Linked DNA regions of Homo sapiens: region 1 is linked to region 2. Evidence: fine-mapped expression QTL. A gene starts in region 2. The other region holds a variant in brackets. All regions are shown on one strand. Distances are between the middles of the regions.

Region 1 (8,000 bases), 260 kb before region 2:
CCTCCTGGAAAAGCAGACACAAAGATAAGATTAGACAAACCCAAGAGTTATCAGAGGCAGGGTCAGAGAGGAACACCTATGAAAGAAAACAGGAGGAAGCCAGAGGAGGCCAAGAGACCGATCTCACCTCGATGTGGGTCTAACCTCTTTGAAGAATAGGGGGAAGAGAGGGAGGAAGGAAAACAAGCTTTACACTGTAGTGCAGTGTAAAGTTCATGGGGATTCTTGAGCTCACATTGCCATCAGTGGAGTTCCCACATCCCTCAGCAATGGGCCCGTTTTAGTACCCCTGCTGCTGCACTCTGTCACTGACTAGAAGCAGCTCCTAAGAAGAGTGGGGCCTCAGCACCAAAGCTGTGATGGATCCAGAAAGCAGCATCTCGAGCCCAGTACTCAGTTGTGTTTCTTGCGGTAGGAGATGTGAGAGGGCATTTTCGTGAGCATCACAATGCATTCAGCCAGTCACTATGCTTTTATAGGCATATTTTAATAAAATTTTAACAATATTTTAATAAAAATCTGAGCTCCAACTAGGTAAACAAACATGAGTGATTTTACTTCCAATTTGCAGAAATCAAATACTTATGGATAAATAAAAATTACTGTAGAAAATTCAGCTAAAATTAGCAAAGCTAAAATTAACAAAAGATTTCAATTGACCACAAAAACAGAAAATCACCCTAATTAATCAGTTCCATCAAATGTATTCCTCACTTGCAGACAGTAACTACCTTTAGTACACATAAGCACACGGTAGTTTTAAGACCTTAGTCCAATAAGGGAGTACTGGCATTAGTTGAATAAAGCCAGTAGAGCAAATCAGCAACACTGCTCAGATAATCAAAATGAAGATTCATAAGACAGGGACAAAGATAAACAGAAATGTGTCTAATACGCAGTATATAAGATGTGTTACTCACTATGCTATGGTTTTTAAAAAGGGGATAAAGATGAGCAAGAAAGACCACCTATGTACTAATGTAAGTATAAGACGAGAGTTCCATTTTGCTTTGATACTGCAGATTGTCAAAAGGGCTGGCTTAGGTTGGTTACATCTATGCACCCTGGTAAGACACAATCCAAGTTGTCTAATTAGATGTTCTTAGAAAAACTAATTTGTGAAGTCAGAGTCTTATATCGTTGTTTAATATGCTTTTTAAATGTCACTTTAAGTAGTAAAATATTTTTAAAAATCAGAATTAAAAAATAAGCTCAAGTGGGTACATGGCACTTTTAAAGTATCTTTCATATGATTTTCTAGGAAGAAGAACATCAGACCCACAGAAGTCCTTAGTAAAGATGTCATGTTATCCCAATAGGAATGTCTGACATCTTGATAATCTTGCAGCTTCTCGTGTAATCCAGAAGGAGGTAAAACTACAGTGAAGTGCATGTTCTCAGACTTGAATGGGTACACAGAGATGAAAATATAATTAATTCAATTGTACTTCTTTGAGATACTTCCAACACATTCAGCCAACAGAACAATGGTGATTTTTTCCCCTTTTCAGAAGTAGAGTCTTTTTGAAACATTCTGCTTTGAATACGGGGCTTTTTTTTTTTTTAATTGCCTTGTACTCCTTCTCCCTAGGATAGTAAACTCCAAGCTCTACATAGGTAAGTATAAAGGATTTTATAAAATGCAAAATGATAAAGTTTACAGAGAAAATTGCTAGGTTTTAGACAATAATACTATCAGCTTAGGGCTGAAAGAATCAGAGGTCTAAAGGTTTACAGACTCAGAATGAAAGCACATATAACACCTAGCTCTGAAAATTAGGTCATGTTAACAGAACTATTTGACTGCGCCGTTTGCATCTGAAAGTCCAATATTTGAGGAAATGTGACTATTTTAATAGCAGGCTTGTGTCAGCAGTTATAAAAATGAGGCCTGAAGCACTGAAAATAGTCTCCTTTCCTTGTTGTCTTCGTCCTTCTAATTATTCCAGATTGTGTTGGAATATCTGTCTTCTTCCTACACCTTACTTCTCACCCAGCAGTGGTCCCTAATTCAGAGCTAATCTGTAAAGGTCAAACCAAAGTTGGAAGCATCCCAAGAACCCATGATTATGCACCAATATTGCCGAGTAGCTAAAAGGTAGACAGCTTTTGGCTAGTGACAGATTTCTTTTTAATAAACAAGTTCACTGAGGGAAAAAATAAAATGATAAATCTGTTAAATATAGAAAACCCAAATTAAAAACAAAGGAGTTGTTGATTGCTTTCTCTCCTTTAAAATACACAGTTGAGAAAAAAAAAACCCTACAAGTACAGAATTCCCTAATATTTAGAATGTATAAAAAATAATTCATTCTGTCAATCAATACTTACTAAGCAGGGGACTTAATTTTTATTTCATTTTATTTATTTATTTATTTTACTTTAAGTTCTGGGATACATGTGCAGAACGTGCAGGTTTGTTACATAGGTATACATGTGCCATGGTGGCTTGCTGCATCTACCAACCTGTCATCTAGGTTTTAAGCCCTGCATGCATTAGGTATTTGTCCTAATGCTCTCCCTCCCCTTTCCCCCCATCCCCGACAGGTCCCAGTGTGTGATGTTCCCCTCCCTGTGTCCATGTGTTCTCATTGTTCAACTCCCATTTATGAGTGAGAACATGCAGTGTTTGGTTTTCTGTTTATGTGTTAGTTTGCTGAGAATGATGGTTTCCAGCTTCATCCAAGTCCCTGCAAAGGACGTGAACTCGTTCTTTTTATGGCTGCATAGTATTCTATGGTGTATATAAAGCAGGGCCTTTTGTAGGCATGCAGGATATAATAGTGAACAAAACAGACAAAACTCTCTCCTCATGGAGCTGACATCTGAAGTGAAGGGAGACAGACAATAAGAAATTATTTAAATATATATAAAAAGTCATTGGTGAAAAGAGTTAAGAAGTAGGTTGCAAGTTTAATCAGGTGGCTAGAGAAGGACTCACTAAGCAGAGGTGTTTGAGAAAAGACCTGAAGGAGCTGACTGTGACAGGCAGGGGAGCGGGAATGACTCATGAGATAGCTGTGTGGAAAGCATCCCAGGCAAAAGGAACAGCAAGTGCAAGGCACTGACGTGGGAGGGGGTGTGTCTGATGTAACAGAGGAGCCTTGTGCCCTGGAGTCGAGCAAACAAGGGGAAAACACTAATGGATATACTAAGAGGCATTGGGGAGCCAGATGTTTATGCATGAGAACCTTGTGAGCAACTGTGGGGACTTGGGATTTTATTCTGAGAGAGATAAAAGACCATT[A/G]TAAGTAGAGGCTGAATAGAGAAGAATATCATACAATTGGTAAGTGAAGGAATCACGCTGGCTGCCATATTCAGAATAAAACAGTTAAAGGGAGCAAGGGAGAAAGCAGAGAAAACAGTAACAAGACTATTGAAATAAAACAGGTGAGAGACAAGGGGCACTGGGCTAAGATGCAGCAGGTGTGGTGAGAATTAGTCAAATTTTGAGTCCATTCAACTCTTCTTTTCAAGGAAGAGTTGAAAGAATTTGCTGATAGACTGGAGTGCATGAAAAAGAAGAGCTAAAAGGAATGAAGGTTATGGCATGATCATCTGAAAGGATAAAGTTACTACTGAGGAAGAATGTGAAGGGTCAGGTGTGGGAGAAAAAGTAAGGAATTTGTTTGGGGTCGCTAAGTGTGACATACCCATTTAGACAAAAAATAAAGATGTCAACTAAGCAGATTGATACATGTGTCTGGAGTTCAGGGGAGAGGTCCAGGTTGGTGATGAAAATTTGGGAATTGCCAGCATAAAAATGGTATTTAAAGCCATGATACTGGAAGAGATCTCCAAGGCAGTAAGTGCACAAAGCAAAGATGTCCAAGGACTGAGCCCTGGGGCCTTCTAATGTTTGGTAGCATACAGCTTTTCTGCATCTCATGACAAGAAGCATTCCATAGATGGTCTTAAAAGGATTCTGGATGAGATGATTGCTTAAAACGAAATATTGCAGAGTAAGTTTATACATTAAGTGGTGATTTTAACCAGATGCTATCTAACATTCCTTCCAATGCTATATGATTTTTGTGACTAAAAATGAAATCTTCAACAACAATGAGATATCACTACACACCTATTAGAATAGCCAAAATTCAGAACACTGACAACAAAATGCTGGCAAGAATACGGAGCAACAGGAACTTTTATTCACTGTAGTTTGGAATGCAAAATAGTACAGCCACACTAAAAGACAGTTTGGCAGTTTCTTACAAAACTGAACATGCTCTTACCATATGACTCAGTAGTCACACTCCTCGGAATTTACCCAAAGGAGTTGGAACTGTATTTTGACATAAAAACCCGCCCGTGAATATTTATAGCACCTTTATTCATAATTGCAAAAACTCAGATGCAACCAATATGTCTTTCAGTAGGTGAACACATAAATAAACCTGGGTACATCCCGACAATAGAATATTATTGAGTGCTAAAAATAAATCAGCTATCAAGTCATAAAAAGTCATGGAGGAAACTTAAATGCATATCACTAAGTTACAGAAGCCAATGTGAAAAGGTTACATACTGAGTGATTCCAACTATATGACATTCTGGAAAAGGCACAACTGTGGAGACAGGAAAATATCAGTATTTGCTAGGGGCTAGGCAGATGGAAAGATGAATAGGAGAACTAAAGAGGATTTTTAGGTCAGGGAAAATACATATGATACTATAATGGTGGATGCATTTGTCCCAAAGCATAGAATGTATAACACCAAGAGTGAATTCTAGTGAAAACTATGGACTTTAGGTGATAATGATGTGTCAACACAATAAGCTCATCCATTGTAACAAAGGCACCACTTTGGTGGGGGATGTTGATAATGAGAGAGGCTATGCATATGTAGGGGTAGAGGGTGTAAAATAAATCCCTGTACCTTCTTCTCAACTTTGTTGGGAACCTGAAACTGCTCTAAAAATAATCTTTAAGAAAATAAAATCTTTTTAACTTCATAAAATTCTAATATATGAATATGTGTTATAAGTATACAATAGAATCCCCTGATTTATTTATACTTTATATGAGGATTGACCTTGTATTGTTCAGATGAAATGCTACAGTCAAAAATGTGTTACTTGTCTGTGAAAGTCAAGCACTCAGTTGATGTTTCAACAAGCTGCCATTAGATTCAAATCAATGATTTAAACATAAATGTATATTATTTAGACTAAAAATACCCTGGGCCCTATTGGTTAAATCCTGAGTTGACCAGATATAGAGGTACAGAATAGTTTCCTTTAATCTGACATAGCTAGATTATTTTAAATCATATAAGGAGAGATTTTATATCATTGATTATTTTGATAAATTTTTTTAATACGTACAATTAAAGTAATGTGTGTTGAATATATAAAAAATGAGAATTTCAGAAAAATCTAACAATATTTAATACCATACATACATATCAATTTCAATATGGCTTGTTTATCTTGGACTATATATATTTTGTTTTTGTTTGCATAATCCCTAAGCTATGTAAACCCTGGGGAAAAATGTCTAATAAACAAGACCCTACATCATTCCTCCTGCATGGGCTATGATTCTTTACTTTTGTAATGCACTTATAATAACATGACAAATCGTATCTTTTACTTCCACCTCCACTCTGGTTGTCTTTGGAATTAAATTCACCAGAGAAGCCTTCTGAAAAGGTGTGATATTTCACCTGTCATGTATACATCAATAGAACATCTTTTCTTGGCACTTGCTTTCAAAATCACTCAAGATATAGGTAATCTTAAAACAAGAATCAAAGCTTTTTCAAGAACTGTGACACAAAAGACTCAATACTGAATGCTATCAAACTGTACACAATGCCAGTAAGACAATATCAATAAGAACTGCATTTCTCTTTTCTAAAGGAAACACCATATCTCAATCAAGTAACATGTTCTTTCCTCATTGTAGCTAGTTTAAGTCACATTTTCAACCATAAAAATATAGAGACAAATACTTTGTTTCTATTAAAGAGATTCTTGTCTTTTATGTCAAGAGACATAAAGAGTCACAGAAAACTTCAGCGAAGTCCATTAATGTCATATCTTCCAGAGGACTTATTACATCTTCTTAGAGGAATAACAATACAGAGGTATTAAATAACCATATTTTAAAGTAAGACATGAGTACCCACAACAGCTAACCCAGACCTATGAGGAAACCTAGCCAAGATTAGGGGATTTCTTGTTCTACAATGGCCTCGCTCATGTCTGATGATTGGCCACCTGTCGAATGGGGTGAGTAAAACGTTAAGTCTTTCATCATCTGTTGATAGCAGGGTTCCAAGAGAATAAATGGAAGCATTCAAGGTCTCCTAAGGTCTAAACCTAGAAATGGCATGATGTCAATCTTACCACATTGTATTTGTCAAGGCAAATTACCAAGGTCACATGGCATTCAAAAGGTGGGAACGTAAACCCCCACCAAATTTGAATTTCAAATTCAAATTTGGTGGGGGTTTACGTTCCGTTCCCACCTTTTTTGGGAACTTTGGTGGGAATTTGGTGGGAAATTTGAATTTCCGACCATATGAATTTCCAAGGTCATATGCCATTCAAAAAGGGGGAGCTTAAACTCCACCTCTTGGTGGGAGAAAATGAAAAGATATCACAAATGGATGTGGGTGGGGGCATTTACTAAGGCTGGAGAGAGGGGAAGTGTTAGGAGATGAGCTCAAAGAGCTAGGCAGCAGGGAGCTCAATAGCGAAAGCAGGGAGATCAGTTAAGAGGCTATTGAAACAATAAGGCAGAGAATGCAGACTATTGATTTTCAAGTAGCAAACTCCCAATACACACTGCCTGACAAAAATTTCATCTTAATGAGCAAGCACCTGAAACTCAAATAAGGCATGCCTTACAAACGCACTGCTCTGAATATCCTGTGTGTTCATGTTCTAATCCCCTTGTTCTTGCCACCAAGCAAAGTTAAGGTTTTTGTTTCTTCACAAATCAAGATATAAAAAATAAACTACATAAAATTTGAATCTGTAGCAACTCTTACAGTCAATTTTCAATTTGTATAACATGCTATTTAGACTTCAAAGATGCATACAAATTTGAAATATTGTTTTTACAAAATCCAAAGATTCATTTTATCCAAAATATCCACAATAAATGATGCACTAAAGCATCAATCCAGAGACAAGGGAATTAACAATTGAAATAATAATTGAGACATAGTAAATTGTTTATAATTATGGAAGCCATACCCTGGACATCTTGCACATATAGCAGCAACATGCTTTAATGGATGGTACCTGGGGCATTTTCTTTGTAGATTCACCTATCTTTTACGTTCAGCTCATTAATTATATGAGAAAATGATCCCGACTAGCTAGGGATTATCTTACACATTTTTTCTTTATGGTATAGAAATTAAGCCAAGCCCTTTAAGACAATTTTTATAAGACAGAAAATAAATAAATTTGTAGATTCACCTATCTTTTACGTTCAGCTCATTAATTATATAAGAAAATGATCCCGATAGCGAGGGATTATCTTACACATTTTTTCTTTATGGTATAGAAATTAAGCCAAGCCCTTTAAGATAATTTTTATAAGACAGAAATAAATAAATAGATGCTGCATAACTAATCCCCAGACTCTTAATATTTAACAGAAAAAAAGGGAAATTTTATTTCAACTTTATCCATAAATATAAGACACGAAATTGCTTGAGCTAAAAAAAAAAATGGGTAAATAAAATGGTCTATAACTTGCTTGCATTTCTAGTATCCATGTCTTTATCATTTCAACGTTTTCTCCCTGTGATTCAGAATTGATCTTGAGAGGTCATCATGAACACACCAGAATCTTGAAACAGAGCCATACTTATTCTGTATGAGGCAAAAAGCAGGAAAACAAATCCCATTTTAAAAGTTTAATGGAACAATATTTTATAACTTGCTTTGGAAACTTATCCCAGTAATCTTCATTACCACCAAATAAATAGACTTACTCATTTTCTATCAATTCATACTGCCAAGCTTTTATTAAG
Region 2 (15,823 bases):
TCAGACCTTAGAATTTCATTCCCCAATCCCACCATTCTGACTCAGGGTGAGCAAATCTTTTCAAAGTTACTTAGAGGGTGTCTAGATTCTGCATCTTACTCCTTAGGACTGGAAGGAAATGGAATATGAGAAATAAAAGAAAAACAGAAAAAAATCATCTCATCTCCCTGACAGAAAAGTCGTTTAGCCCTCTTTGTAAAATAAATGTAAAGAGAAATAGGAAATAGCACAACTAGATAATAAGGTGATTCAACTGAACAGGGTTAGGATTTCAGAAGTTTCATTTTTTGTGAATATGTGATCTATTGAGGAGAAAACAGATCCTAAAACAGTAGAAGGCCAAAAGGACCTGATGTGTATCTTCTTTAAAAAAAATCACAACTCCAGATAAAACATGAGGGAAAATGACATTTTATTCTGCAGTATTCCCTTCTCTGCACAGTGAGCACAGTACATTTATCTCATATGATGGTAAAAGTCTTTGGCAGCTGCAACCTGTCTTTTAAGCCATTCAATAAGTGAAACTTGAACATGGATTGCTCTTTTTTTCTGGGATTTGTGTTAATAATGAATCCAGTGCCATTTAATTTGTAATTTAACAGGGTACTGTTACCTTTGAATGCTTTTACTTCTCTTTTCCCAGAAGGTTAAAATGGCCCAGAAAGAGATTGTCATGGTTAAGATAAAGGGACAAAACAGTCATTTCTGACACGCTGTGGAAGCAATCATCATTTTTATGAGGGAACCACCAGGCTGAAATCTGCATCAAGCTCTACCAGGAAAAATGCAAGAAAGGACCCTAAATATTCATTCCGTTCACAGTCATCATTTCAATGAATTTAACTTTCCATTCAGTTGGGGTCATATATTTCAATCCTAGGGTAAAGAACTATGACCTTGGCTGGAATCATCAGTCCCAGTTACTCAATGGGGCACTTCTGAAACATCGCAGACTCATTTTGACTCTCCACGGGTGTGGCTAAAATTGGTCCTGTCCAGCCCTAAAGCTTATATGATCTGATGTCCCTCCGAAACTCACTATGAGAAAACTCATGCAAAATTTGCCATAGAGATCAAGGTTTACAGGACCCTTGGAGCTAATCTCTCTCTGCCCTCCTCCTCTGTTAGCTGTTACAAGCCTTCAAAAGTTAACAGGGTGATGGAGCCTCTCTCTATACAATCATCTCATCTCACTATCGTTGACTGAAACTCGCTGATGTAATGAAGTTACATAATCACCGATTATGCACGACTTCCATCCATCTTCCTACATATCCACATATCTTCTCCCCTCCCCTTTGGATCAATCTACCAGGTGAGATTTATAACATATGTAAATGCTCCACTCTCTCATCACAGGCACTGAATATGGAACTTTAGCATTGCAGTACAGTGCACTGAACCACGTCATCAATATTGATTTCTTTATCCCATTTCCCAGGCAGAATATGCTTAAACATCCTTAGTGTTCTAGTCTCTAACTTTTTACCGAAAGGGTAAAATAGATGTAGCAGACAGGACACATCTTCAACTTAAGGTTAGGGGAAGTATGTAATTAATTGCCTGCATTTCCCAAGCTGGCTGCATTGCAATAAAAGGACGGTCTCTGCTTTCAGACCTTCGACTCCCCTGCACGTGGGTCTCAGCTTCAGCTATTTAGGATATTGGGTAAATAATTATATTATTGGGCAATTGAACTTGAGAAAGAAAGCACTGTGGTGATATTTAAGATAATGTTGCCTTATTCTTCTCTATGTTAGCCATCATTTTTAGCTTTTTCTTTTCTTTTCCTTTTTTCACTCTGAGTGATAATCCAGTAGATAAAAAAGTAGCCCAGGGCGCTTAATAATCTCCAGTAACCACAACCTAGAGAACAATTAACGATGATTATCACCTTAAAGTTTAAGAACTTGACAAGTGGGATGTCCCTGGTCCCATTGCGGCTGTGAAATGCAGCAGAATGCTGCACTGAGTTGAAAACATATTTCTTTTAATGCATAGAGAGTAGCTCGTTTCATTTTAAATGGGGCTCTTCACTAAGTGTTTCTTTTACTGCTGCTACCCCTTCCAGAACGCAGGGGCCACAAATATTACATTCAAACAAAGAGTGTCTACCCAGAATTAATTCAAGACACTCTTCCATATCAAAATAATTGGGGGAGAGAGTGATACTTTGATTTTCAATTGCACTCAGAATACGGGCACACATACATATACACACACACGCACACACACATACACACACACACACACACACACACACACACACACACACACATATCAACACACCCAACTGCAGTTATTCCATTCAGTGCCAATAACGGCCACATCACAGCCATCAATGCGATGCAGCAATCATTCAAGTCACCCATTCCCATTACAAATGCCCAAGTTTGCTCATGCCACTGATGGGTTTGCATATATAAAATGACCTTACCCACAACAGTCTTCCAAATTATTCTCCTCTGGATATTAGTCGGTAAGGTAATTGCTGGTCATCACAATGCGTATTCAGAAAAATCCACGTTTTACTCCTGTGTTCTTTTTCTTGTTTTTGCTAGCAATTAATATTGTGAACAAGATTCCCATTCACAAATGCCAAGTTCACCATAAAAGCAGATAATTCCATACAGATCTTCCCTACAAGACTGTCTCCAGTTAGTTCTCAAAGTGCCCGATTGTTTGCTGAAGATACAATCCAGGTGCAGAGCAGGAAAAAAAAAAACAGACTAGGAGAAAAATGAAGAGGCAGATAGAAAAGGAGAGACTGAGAGAGGAGAGAGCAGAAAAAGAGAGGGGAAAATAAGAATAATTCTTAAAAAATAAGGAAGGAAAAAAGCCGATAAGTGAGAAGTCTGCGAGCTCTATGACAAGAATTGGAGTGTTGCTTGCAAATCTTCTGAGTACATGCAGCCTTTCAAATCCTCCTGGTCCCCAAGTAAAATTTCCAGATCCGGGATGCAGCCATAAGAAAGAATCCTATGTATATTTCACAAGTATCCCGCAATAACAGATCCGACGGGGTTTTCCTTGTACAGTACTGCTATGTGAAAGCACACAACCCCTGCTGTTTGGGAAGGTGTCTCCTGGGTCCTAGCTCTCCTCAGCAGCCCCCAAAAATGATTTTTCAAAAAAGAGTCGGGGGGGGGGGTGGGAAAAGCAGCTTTGCGTTTGCCTTGAATGATGCTAATCCTGAGCGAAAACCACAAGCAAAACACGAATAGCACGAGATCTTGATTAATAGCCACAATCCACTCAAAATATCCCAGGGAAGAAGGAGCGAAAACAAGAAAGAGAAACTGCAACGCATAAATGATTCCAGTGTTTCTACAAGATCGGTTCATTTGATTGAATGCATTCTCTGGTTTGCTGCAAGTCATAAAGAGGATAGTATTACTGCCACCCAATGGATATTTTAGTACTAGCCAATCCACAGACAGCCACCGCTTTGCGAGTTTGAGTTCTCAGAAGACCGAAGTGGAAGGAAGGTAGCCTGGGAATCTTTTGGAAAGGACCCTGGGAGGCTTCAAATAACGGAAATCTGTTCTTCCAGGCAAAAGCAGACTGGCAAATTTGGATGCTTATACAGTCTTGCCTTAGCCACCTTAGAATTATGGTTCCATTTCTCTAGGAAGCAGAAAGATACAGAGAGTGATGCCTAAGCCGACACACTCTTGATAACCTCCTTTTCATCTCTTCTCTTTGAAGCAGATTTATTATTGCGCGCGACCCTCCCACCCCCATCACTGTCTCCCCAACGCCCCCATTCTCCGTATCACTTTAAGATGGATTACAAGAGAGAAGGGGTGCGGGGGCTGCTCCAAACAAACCTCAGGTGCTAAGATGATAATTGTTTCTAAAGGGCAGTTTTGCAAAAGTGCCTCTGTCTGTATTGATATGCAAACTGTGAGTCCTTCAAGCAGTAACCCTCCTCACAGCCGCGCTTTCAGTTTGGGGGAGGAGCAAAATCTTCCCTAAGTGAGTGGGGCTTGGGAGAAGGGTGCCTGTGGAAGGCTCTCTGGGAGTGCGGGGTGGGGGTGGGGAGTGGGAGGAGGAGCGGAGGGGAGGGTATTGAAGAGGATCCTCCTCCCATCCACCGCGTAATTGAGTTCCCTGCAAAAGAGTTCGCTGCTGGTTTCTGAGATGAATTTGTGATGAAGAAAGAGGGTCAAAGTAGGTACGGGTAAATACATTAGGTTATTTGCTCAATTTAAGGTCCTTGACCATTTACATTGGGATAGTATAACACTCACATGTGATTCCGTGATTCTCAAACTTTGATGTACACACCGTCACCTGGGTGTCTTGTTAAAATGCAGATTCGGATTCGGTACATCTGGAGTGAGGCCTGAGACCCTGCGTTTCTAATAAGCTCGCCCGTGGCCCATAATAATGTTGCTGGGCTGTGGACCACATTTGGAGTAGCAAGACCCTTAAAAAATGTTAATGTTTACACTGCAGCAACAGTGTCAGTTTCCGGCAGCTGAGTAGGCTGGATGATTAAAAGGCAGCGAGCCGCTTTTCTAGTTACTTCTCTCCCTCTCCCCACCCTGCAACCTTTCCCATTCAACACCGGCAGCCCATGTACTTAAAAACCTTAACCCATTTTGTAATGTATCCCACAAGCTTTTGTAATGGCAGGCTTAACCGGATAAACCAAAAATAGAATAAATAGGTAAAGTAGCCTTGGCCCTTCAGAACTGTTTTAATTTGGGGAGTAAAACACGCATCAAGATAAAGAAAACACTTTAAAAATTAGGTAAAATGTGAGCTAAACGAATACAAACTAAGCGCGCAGGTGAGAATAACAGCAGGCAGGGAGACTAGACAGGGAGGTAAAACTGTATTTCGAAAAAAGGAGCAGTACACTGAAATTTCCAACCTAAGCAGAGGGAAAATGTGGTTAAAGTCGGTAGGCAAGTCTTACAAGGTTTCTTTGAAGCTAACTCACCCATGTTCACATCTTCTGTGCCAGTGTTTTTCTTCCCTCTGCTTCTTCCCCACATGCTATAATTCAGCCTAAACTGAAGATTAGAAGTGAAGAGGAAATATATTCCCCTCCTTTCAACGTGAGTGATCTAGATTTTCTATACCTTCCATCACAGTCCTCTAGTTGACCCAGTTGAATGTGAATAGACCTCAAGCAGACCTGGAGGGGGGCACAAGTAACAAGTGTAAATGTAATTGCTTCAAGCAAAATTTAAAAGTAAACGTCTTGACCGTAGGCTCCAATCCTAGATTTGAGTCTAAATTCTACTCCTAAGTAGCCATAATTACCCAAGGGAATCACTTTAATTTCTCTTGGCCTCAGTTTCCTTGTCTATAAAATGACAGGTTGAAATTAACCAGTTGCCAACGTGCTGTCCAGCTCCATATGGTACAAAAATCACGTCCTCTCTTTGAAATGTTCTGCAAGTCAGTTTGTTACTGTACACAGAGAAGGAGTTATGATTATTACCTTGACATGGGCTGCAGAGAGCATCTAGAAGCTTTGAAAAGCATCTCGAGGACACAGGTGAACATTTGACCACTTCAATCCTATTTCAAGAGATGATTTAAAGTGCTTTCATTTCAAATGAAATGATCAGATCCAGGAAAGGAAGTGTTTGTTTGAATCTGAGGTGAAGCATTGTCTATTCCTGGATCCTACAGAGCCAACTGTGGGCCTCGCTGTTTGTTGCCATGGGATCCTCTTTGTGCGAACTATCTTGAACTGTGTGGGAACATTTTCCTCTTGCCTCCCTTCAGTTCTCTAACTCTTCTGAAGATATGTGTCAGAACAAAATGTAGCTGCATTATTGCCAATTAAGACTAACGGCAGCTGCAAGGTGCATCTAATTAAGAATTTTAATTACTTCACTGAATTCTCATTTGCAGATGTTTAGAGCATTCAACAATGTATTGTGATTTTTATTTTAAAATCTGAATAAAGCTGACCTCCCTCCAAAGGAGGGTGGAAAACTACACAACCCAATGATGGATATTTTTAAAAAAGAGTCTTTGACATGGAAAGTATATACCTTGATATATCATTTGAGAATATGCGACATTATATTGAGGATGAGGAAATAGAGTGCATATCCATAAATATGCCTTTTTTACTAAAGGAAAAGGCAAGCAAATCACAAAATACTGGAAACAAATTGATAATTTACTATTCAAGTAGAATCCTTGCATGCTACATAGTTCTCAAATATTCTGTTCTTTTTCTTTCCAGTAATATGATGGTTAACTGTAGGTTTGGCACTGCAGTATGGGGATTGTAGGCTATAATGCAAAGCATTATGGGGTTTGTAGTAAAAACTGGCTGCAGATCAATTCCATGCTTCTAGCTTTTCTCAGTTGAAGAAACTGCTGTTTTATTTTCTAGTAATAAAGAAGAATGTCAAGATACTGTACATTAGATTCATTTTAATGAAACAAGGTTGGTATTAATGGGAGTATGAAATTAAAGGTTAGCTACAGAAATATTCTGACTTGGGAGATGGAGAATATAACCCCACTTTACAAACCCCAAAATAAACTGAGTGAGCTATTTCCTAATATTACTATCCTATAGTTAAGGTTTCAAAAATCACTTTCATTGTTTTAGTAGTAAAACGTGAGAAAATATCAAATTTGGTATTTACGAAAGAGAATGATCAACACCTGAAATGAACTCAAGTTCTTATTGATTCTGTCTTTAACTATTGGTAGTTGAAATTTAATTCTTCACATTTCACGTCATTGAAGGCTATAATAATAGTTTGCTTTAGCGCAGCTTTTTGTGGATGGAGGCTTCTTTAAAGAGAGAAAGAGAGCCTACTCAGCTGCCAGCCACTCAGTGAAGTGAACAAGAGTTTTATTTAATCTACCTTTTTAGATACTTTTTATATAAAATTACTCTGAATATTCAGAGTAGCTTCTCTTTTTAATAAAATCCTTAAGGCTAGAATATCCTTAAGGTTAGGAAATATGTCTGAATTGGGTTATTTTATTCAGTTTAAATTTAATTATGGAAATGTATAAATTAAGAAGTTATAATTCAGTTCATTTTTGTGTGCAGATGATTCTATGTAGATAAATACATAATTTACAGAGGTTTTGATTTAATTCTGTTGGCAGTTTATTTCAAAGTTCACTAAACATTTTCCATATGATATGAATTCAAAGTCTAGCTCCCCACAATGCTCTATGAAATCAGCCCCCCTTTTGTTTTGAAGGCTAAAATACGTCTCTTCAAAGCCTCTTCCATCTGTGAAAGTTTCGATTATCATGCTAAGTTACTTAGAAGGTATTTTATACCTGAGGTTGCTTCTTTTTCTCTTTCTCTCCTTAAAGAAGCCTCCATCCACAAAAAGCTGCGCTAAAGCAAACTATTATTATAGCCTTGAATAAATGCAAAATCAAGTACTCTTCATTTTCAGGCCTTTTGCCAGCAATATTCATTTGAACCCACCACCACATATTCTCAAATGAGGTACAGACAAAGACTTGAGCATTTCAGCAAAATTCCACCATAAAGTTCAGGAATAATAAAGAATGCTATGAAAAAGCAAACAGCAACAGGAAAGAAAAATGCCATGCCTGCTTTTCTTTCAGATTTCTAAGTTTTGAATCATAAAAATATATAAATATATATCTTCTTGAATGCAGTTTACATTATTGTTCATACTGTGAATATTTCTTTTATGGTCATAAAAATAAAAGCAATGCCCCAAATGAAACACTGTGTACATAAGCGATGCAAATGCATCCCCGGTGGAAAGCCGGCTGGCTGCTGGTGGGAGGGTATATTTATACAGTGCCTTTCATTTGGAAGGTTCCCAAAATGATTTGCAAACTGTATATAGAGGAATGGCTCACCATGGAAATTCACCCACTTCCAGGAGAGAATGCAGAAGTCATTCCATGCTGACAGCCAGTTTAAATAAAACCGCAGAACAATATTTCAGGTGGGTGAAATATTAAAATTGTAATTGATTCAGGAAATGTGCCCTGGAAACCCACTATGTGCCAGGCATGGTTCAAAGTACTGAGGGTATCATTATGGATATATCTAGTTCAGTTTCCTGCTCTCCTAAAGCTTACATTTTATTAAAATCTAACCAGAACTTGGGAGTTACAAAGACCTATTTCCTGGTGAATTTCTGATCTCTGCATAGAGTTCTGCTGAAATAGACCACTTGCACTTTTTATATGTATTTATATCAGACTTCATGATATCCAGGACACAGAACCTGTGGCATATCTTCTACTTCAAATTGAACGCACAAAAAAATAGCTTCAGATATTGTGGTTGAAGCAGGTAAAATAATAATATTTCCTGCATTGAATGCTTTGGGGGTGGTAGGGCAGAATTCATACTCTTCTGGGTTTGGGAAAATAAATGAAACGGTATTGATGTAAATATATGGAAGATCACTTCCTCTGAAATGATTCAGGGCATTTCACGGTAATTACAGCGTATAAAATAGGTTTGATGAAGGAAGAGAACAGTGTGAGCTAATGTTTCCAAGTATAAAATATGGAATCAAATTTCAGTATCACTCAAATTACCTAGATTAATAATATTTTTCAGAGGAAAATAGATTGGGAAAAGAAGGTAAGGCAGGGGCTGTGAAAGTTCAGCCCAGACTAGCTCTGTGTACTCACAGCCATCACCCTCTTCTCTGTAGTTTGCTTCTAAAGGCCAGCACCCATACCCTCTTTAACAATTGCTCTTGGGCTACTAGCACTGTGTGTCATGCCTGTGATGAGAACAGGAAGTACCTGGAATTTGAAACCCTCTTCCACCTTACCCAAGAACTGACTGATGTGGAAGTATGAAACCCTGGCTCTTTTTACTATAGTTTGAAAAAACTCTGTGGTGCAATTTATACTCCAAGCTCTCCCTCCTGTGGAGAGCTGAGGCTGGGACTGTGCTTATAGTCACACTCTTGCTTGGTTTCTGGGAATGAAAGATAGAGGGTAACTAGAAATAATCATAGAGGTCCCACTTCTGGCTTTCAAATATTCAGCCTATGTGACTGGAGATAGTAATATTTGTTCACCTATTCATTTGTCTATCATTTATTAATTACATGCTATGTGACAGACAGTGCAGGGTGTTGAGGCTCTAGGGATGTGTAAGGCACAGTCCTTGTCTTTAAGGAGCTCATGTCTAGCAATAGAGTGACCCACAAACAGCACATGTAATACATGCTGTGGTAAGTACTCTAGGAGAGATCTGAATTCAGCCTAAAAGAATCAGGGAAGACTGAACAGAGAAGGTGTTATTTCGGTGACCTTGAGGTTTATCGATAAAGCAAGATAAAAATCACAAAAGAGTGAAGACCAGTAATAAAGAGCAACATCTAAGTAGGCCAATTTTCTTGTACCTAGAAGGAAATAACATTGGTTCTGGTAGTAGAACTCAAAAGTGTTTAAAATCATAGAATCAGTTTTTGAAGGGGGCTCTAGAGACAACCTTGAATAATCTCTTTATTTTAGACAGAGGAAATTGAGTCTCACCCAGGAAAGTGACATAGTTATTCAAGCTTACATAGCTAGGAAGTTTTAGGAGTTCTTTTCTGGCATGACTCAGCCATATCGCCTGTCAGCCTTTTATTTAAAAAGATAAGTTGAGGACATAATGGAGATATCTGATATAATATGATCTGGTTTGAATCCTATCACCATATGGCCTTGAGAAAATTCCTTACCTTTTCTGAGTCTGAATGTCCTCCTGTAAAAAAATGAAGTTAATGGGATTACCTCCTCCTGGGGATGTTGTAGTATGTATACTCCATAGAGTACCTAGAACATAGTATGTGTTTGAGAGAGGAGTGCTTTGTTTCATTTTAGCTTTTAAAATTTGTTTTCATTTCTTTTCTTTTCTGATCAGAGAATATTATAGTGGTGTAAGGAGTCATCGCCATTTTATTTTTGTTTTGTGTTTTGTTTTTATTTTTGTTATACTGGCTACAGAGTTGAAGGGAACTAGACATTCAGGATAGCTTCTTCTTTTCTTTTTTTTTTTAATAAGCTGGTAGTGTTTGGGGTTAGAATAACCTTGTCTGACTACAACTCATGGGTATTACTGACAGTTCATCTGAGGACCAGTCTAACTTTGTTCAGTACAAGCCAAGTAGGTGAATCTGCTTTGTCTAACCAGCTAGTTATAATAATAATGAACAAAATACTGAAACATATATTTACCAATTGAAGAAGTCTATTTTACTCACATTACAAAGGAGGATAGCCAAATGGCAAATGAATGCATCAAAAGGTAAGTGACTTAATTAGACATAAGGGTGATATAAATTTAAAGCATAGTGCAACATCATGACACATTCCCCAAAATGTTTAAAATGAAATCATGGGCAACGGAAAATGTGGGTGAAGAGTTGAAGCAACTGGAACTCACGTCTACTCATGGTGAAAGATAAAATTGTTTCAACAACCTTGGAAGACTTTTCAGCAGTGCCTATTAAATCTAAACATATGCATAACCTATGATGTCAGCAATCCCATTCTTAGGTATATACTCAACACAAATTCAGACATATGTTCACCAAAAACACGTATTAGAAAGTTCAGAGCAGTTTTATTCCAAAAAAGTTGCAAACTGGAAACTACCCAAATGCTCATCAGGAGTAAAATGGATGAATAAACTGTGGTATATCTAGACTGTTGGCTGCCATAAAGGAATAAGAACTAACAAGCTACAGTTATCCACAACAATATTATTGAATCTCACAAACAAAATGTTGAGCAAAATAAACCAGACACAGAAGAGTACATACTGTAAGACTGCATTTATAGAAAGGACAAAACTAACCAAATCTACACTTCAACACATAAGGATAGGAGTTATCCTTGGTGGAAGTAATGACTAGAAGGAAGCATAAAAAGAGTTTCAGGGATGCTATAATGTTCTGGTTTTTTCTGATCCTGGTGTTCGTTAATTGGGTATATTCATACTGTGAAAATTCACTGACCTGTATGCTTATAATGTATGCACTTGTGCATATATTTCATATTTTAATAACAAAGTTTTACCAAAAAGAAGTTTATTTTAGGCCGAGCGCGGTGGCTTATGTCTGTAATCCCAGCACTTTGGGAGGCCAAGGTGGGCGGATCACGAGGTCAGGAGTTCGAGACTAGCTTGGCCAACATAGTGAAACCCTGTCTCTACTAAAAATACAAAAATTAGCCAGGTGTGGTCGCACGCACCTGTAGTCCCAGCTACTCAGGAGACTGAGGCAGGAGAATCGCTTGAACCCGGGAGGTGGAGGTTGCAGTGAGCCGAGATGGCGCCATTGCACTCCAGCCTGGGTGACAGAGCAATTTCTGTCTCCAAAAAAAAAACAGAAGTTTGTTTTAATATCAGAAGAAAAACATCTAACTCCTACATTAATTATAGATTATTAAAAATAATAAAAACTAAAGTGTAGGCAGATGTTTGTGAAAGTTAAATATTGTATCATATTTGAACACAAAGGTCTTCCTGTGAAATGGATATGAAAAGGCAGGATTTGTTTATTTTAAAAAATGTTTTCAGGAAATAAATGGGGTTTTCTTTTGGAATTGTAATTAATTTAGTATAATTTAACATAGAAAAGAAACTGGATAATGAAGATAATCATGTCTTTGACTTTTTAGTGTCAATCAAAGCTTTGTTAAATTCTTTTGTGAAATGATAATAGCTAGCATTTATTCAGTACTTATTATGTGCCAGGCACCACTGGAGGCATCTTATACCTGCTAATTCATTTAATCTTCAAAATAAATCAGTACTGTTGTTATGGCCAATTTACAGATGAGGAAATCAAGGCTTGTTCAATGTCTCACAGTGGCAAACTTGGAAATTGTACCTTTTCTTAATTTCTACCCTTATCTGCCACGCTTAGCATTTGATTATTTTCTCTATGTTACATTTAGCTAAAATCATCAACTTTGTCTTTGGCTTGTATGTTGCCTTTTTGTCTTGATATTGCTAGTACATCAAGCTGTAAACTAAAGAGTCAGTAGCAATTCAGCAAAATTTCTAGTGCACTATTTTCTCCAGCAGTCTCTTAGTTTCGATTTGGGGTATCTCTTTGCTGTTTATCTTTTTCCTATAGGAGCTCTAAGTGAATTACTATGTTTCTGTTGAATGAGAGAAATGTGATGAAATTATGGCTTTCAGGGCAAAAACATTAATATTTCAACTTTTAAAACACCTAAGAATAGTATGATGAAGGATGTGTTAATGTTATGTAAATACCAGTATGGCTTTCTGAACTAATTTTTACACTGAGGAAAACAACTCTTTTAGTAAATCATACAGGAGACCAGAGAGATATCATGGATGATGTTTAATAACTAGATATCTATATTCAATTTGTGTGTGTTTATCAGATATTAGAGGAATATTATACTAGAATGTGATTATTGTATAGCAGATACTATGTACAAAAGGGAGATTATAGCATAGCAGAATAGAGGCAGTAACTTAAACCTTGAATATTGAATATCATTATGGTAAAAGTGTCTTGTGACAGAGACAATACTATGTGTTCACCAAACTTTTAAAATTTCCTTCTTTTTTTTTTTTTTTTTTTTTGAGACAGAGTCTCGCTCTGTCGCCAGGCTGGAGTGCAGTGGTGGGATCTCAGCTCACTGCAACCTCCGCCTCCCTGGTTCAAGTGATTCTCCTGCCTCAGCCTCCCCAGTAGCTGGGACTACAGGTGCGTGCCACCACGCCCAGCTAATTTTTTATTTTTAGTAGAGACTCGGTTTCACCATGTTGGCCAGGATACTCTCGATCTCTTGACCTCGTGATCTGCCCACCTTGGCCTCCCAAAGTTCTGGGATTACAGGCATGAGCCACCATGCCCGAGCATAACAATTTCCTTCTTAAGCACTCAAAACACTATGTTGCCGGGTCCTTTTACATCTAGGTGGGTCCACAGTGGATTGTGGACAGATGAGTTACATACGTCTTCTGGACCTGATTCCTAAAATCTCCAGAGAGATCTCCCCTCTGTCTTTATTCTCATGCTTATTTTCTTCTTATGTATGGCTTGAAGGAAAGGGCTTCAAGATGATGGAGTCATGTGATAGATGAACCCTAATTCCTAAGTCATTGCTAAAAGGAGAGTTATGTAGCCAGTAGCATCAGACTTGGGCTTTGTGTGACTAGGAAACAAACATTCATTATACTAAGTGACTGAGATTTCAGGTTCATTTGTTGGTACAACAGAGCTTAAATGACCCTGATTTATAACCTCTCACCTCTAACCTCTCAAAGGCAAGAAGAAAACATTTTTCTTCTATTTTTTCCTCTATTGATTTATTATTTTGTATTCAGGTGTACAAAATTGTACCGATCACTATTCTTGATTAATAGTCTTTTTCATTGGTCTATGTGCAGCCTAGTTTTATTTATGTATTTATTTAGTTTTCAAGAGGTTATGAATGCTTGAGAAAGCGCCACCCAAAACAAAAGCAAGTATCTTAATAATGATCTATATCAAACAAATGGAATGGTACCCCTGCCAACCTATACACCTGCCTTCCTTCATCTAGAGAAACCATTATCCTGAATCTCACGTGCATTTTTTGTTTGACTTCTTTTTCATATAACTTTGTTGCATCTATGATATCCCTAAAGAATATAAATATTTTACATTTCAATTTTTTTAACTTCATAAAATAGTATCGGCTCCAATTCTGGATAAAATGCAGTAAGTACACTTTATTCTTTCTTTTCCTGTTGAACACAACTTTAAAACCTGCACAGAATGTATGAAGCAACTATTTGAAAACTCTGAAAAGTAAATAGTAGTAGGTAGATCAGGACAGAACACCAGAATTTGAAGTGAATTTTGTGAATTTGTACTAAGTTGACCTTTTTATTTTCCCTTTGACATCTCCCAATCTAAAGTCAAAACAAGTGGTAAGTTGGAAATGAGCTCTGTGGCACAGAAAGAGAAAGCTCCAGGAGAGACCATCTTCCCCTGGCTCAAGGACTGGGAAAGGAAACTCCTAATGCTAAGAGAGAGTGGAGAACTCTCTCCCACCTTTCTCTTTATTTCTCCATTCTGTTGTGCCTCAGTTTCCAGGCAATCTTGTGGTGTTGGTGGAGATGGCAGCTGCAGTTACTGGAACCAGTAAGAATGAAAACTCTGAGGGAGGAGTCTTCTCTGTTCTATACAGCTTGCAGTTTCAAGAGGGTAGGACAAACTCTCTTTGTTTTCCTGGTTGATTGTCGTATTTTGTTTTGTTTTTTTTATTGCCCGTCTTCCTCCACTTGAGCCAGAACATGAATCTCATCACAGCAGTCCACAACAGAGCCTGCCAGTATCGGGGTAATTAGAGCCCCAAGTTTCTGACTAGGGAACCAAAAAGGGTGAAGGCAGAGAATTGAAACATACCAGACAGATTTCAGGGAGGAAGAACTGAGGAAATTGACCCCACAAATTTGTTTATGAACGCCAAGGCTCACCCTCAGGTGGCACATATCAGTATTTTCTTTGTCTGCAATTATATCCTGCATACTAATCGTGATACATTTTGTTGACTTTCCAATTATACTTTTGTCTCGTATTTTTATTTCTGCTATGCTTTTGATATTTGTTGACTTCTACTTTCTTTGATTTATTCTGTCAATCATACTCTATCATCTTAAGATGAATATTTAAATCATTAATTTTAAGAATTTCTTCTTTTTTAATATGAGGCTTGTGGCTGTAAATCTTCCTTAAAGCATTTTTGCCATATCTCACAGTTCCTAATATCTAGTGTTTCTTTATAATTCTGTGTTTGTCATTGTTAAATTTCACTATGATGTTTTTCTTTAACCTAAGAGTTACATAGTGTTGTGTATGTGTGTGTATGTGTGTGTGTTTTAAATTTCCATATGATCAGGGATATTTTTATTTTTTAAATTATCTTCTAGCATAATTTTATTATGGTTAGATATTGTAAGATCTCAAATTTTTGAGGATTTAATAGATTATATATGATCAACTTTTCTAAAACGTCTCACATGTGCATGAGACAATTGTATATTTCCTAATGCATGCATAATCATACCCCCCTCCCCCAATTAACAATCAAGCTTAATTGTGTTGCTTGTTAAATGTGTTGTTTTAATTTTTTTTTTCTTTTAAGACATAGTCTTAAAATGTCATCCCGGCTGGAGTGCAGTGGCGCGATCTCAGCTCACTGCAACCTCCGCCTCCCGGGTTCAAGTGATTCTTCTGCTTCAGCCTCCCAAGTAGCTGGGACTACAGGTGCATGCCACCACACCTGGCTAATTTTTGTATTTTTAGTATAGACAGGGTTTCACCATATTGGCCAGGCTGATTTTGAACTCTGCCCGCCTTGGCCTCCCAAAATGCTGGGATTACAGGCATAAGCCACTGTGCCTGGCCTGTTTTACTTATTTTTCTTCTGTGTCTTTACTGATTTGTTTATTGTGTAACCTGTAAATAACAGTGATGTGTTGAAATTTCCCACTATGATAGCACATTTATCATTATAGAAATAACAATTTTTTGCTGCATATATTTTGAGGCTATTTTACTGGTGTCTACTTGTTTAAAATTGCTATACTTCCTTGATAAATTCAATCTTTTTAAGTCATGGCTCTCTCCATCCCAAATATTTTTTGTCTTAAAGTGTATTTAATTTAATATAACATAGTTATCAATATTATTTTGATTATTGTATTCCTGATAGGTCTTGTTTTTACTATACTTTCACTTCAAACTTTCTTTTTTTTTTTTTTTTGAGACGGAGTCTGGCTCTGTTACCCAGGCTGGAGTGTAGTGGTGTGATCTCAGCTCACTGCAACCTCCGCCTCCCAGGTTCA

Which allele goes with the higher level. Positions count from the first base shown, and alleles are read on the strand shown. Sizes are in standard deviations (SD) of each study's normalised expression.
For the expression in tibial nerve of the gene that starts at base 3,039 in region 2, A is the low allele of the variant in region 1 and G is the other (small effect, 0.31 SD a copy in GTEx).

The links. PIP is the estimated chance that this variant, and not a neighbour inherited with it, causes the effect.
Region 1: its variant is the best candidate, but not a certain one, in a credible set for the expression of IL1RAPL1 in tibial nerve (GTEx, PIP 0.74).

Annotation. Positions count from the first base shown.
Region 1 is chrX:28,842,705-28,850,704 of GRCh38, reverse strand. All of the region lies in intron 2 of IL1RAPL1 (interleukin 1 receptor accessory protein like 1), which reads right to left. Among named protein-coding and RNA genes, the nearest start is that of IL1RAPL1, 260 kb to the right of the region's middle. RefSeq lists an enhancer at 6,442-6,994. The variant A/G (reference allele first, on the strand shown) is at 3,248.
Region 2 is chrX:28,574,662-28,590,484 of GRCh38, reverse strand. It overlaps IL1RAPL1 (interleukin 1 receptor accessory protein like 1), which reads right to left and starts at 3,039. Exons shown (of 11, transcript NM_014271.4): 1 at 2,438-3,039.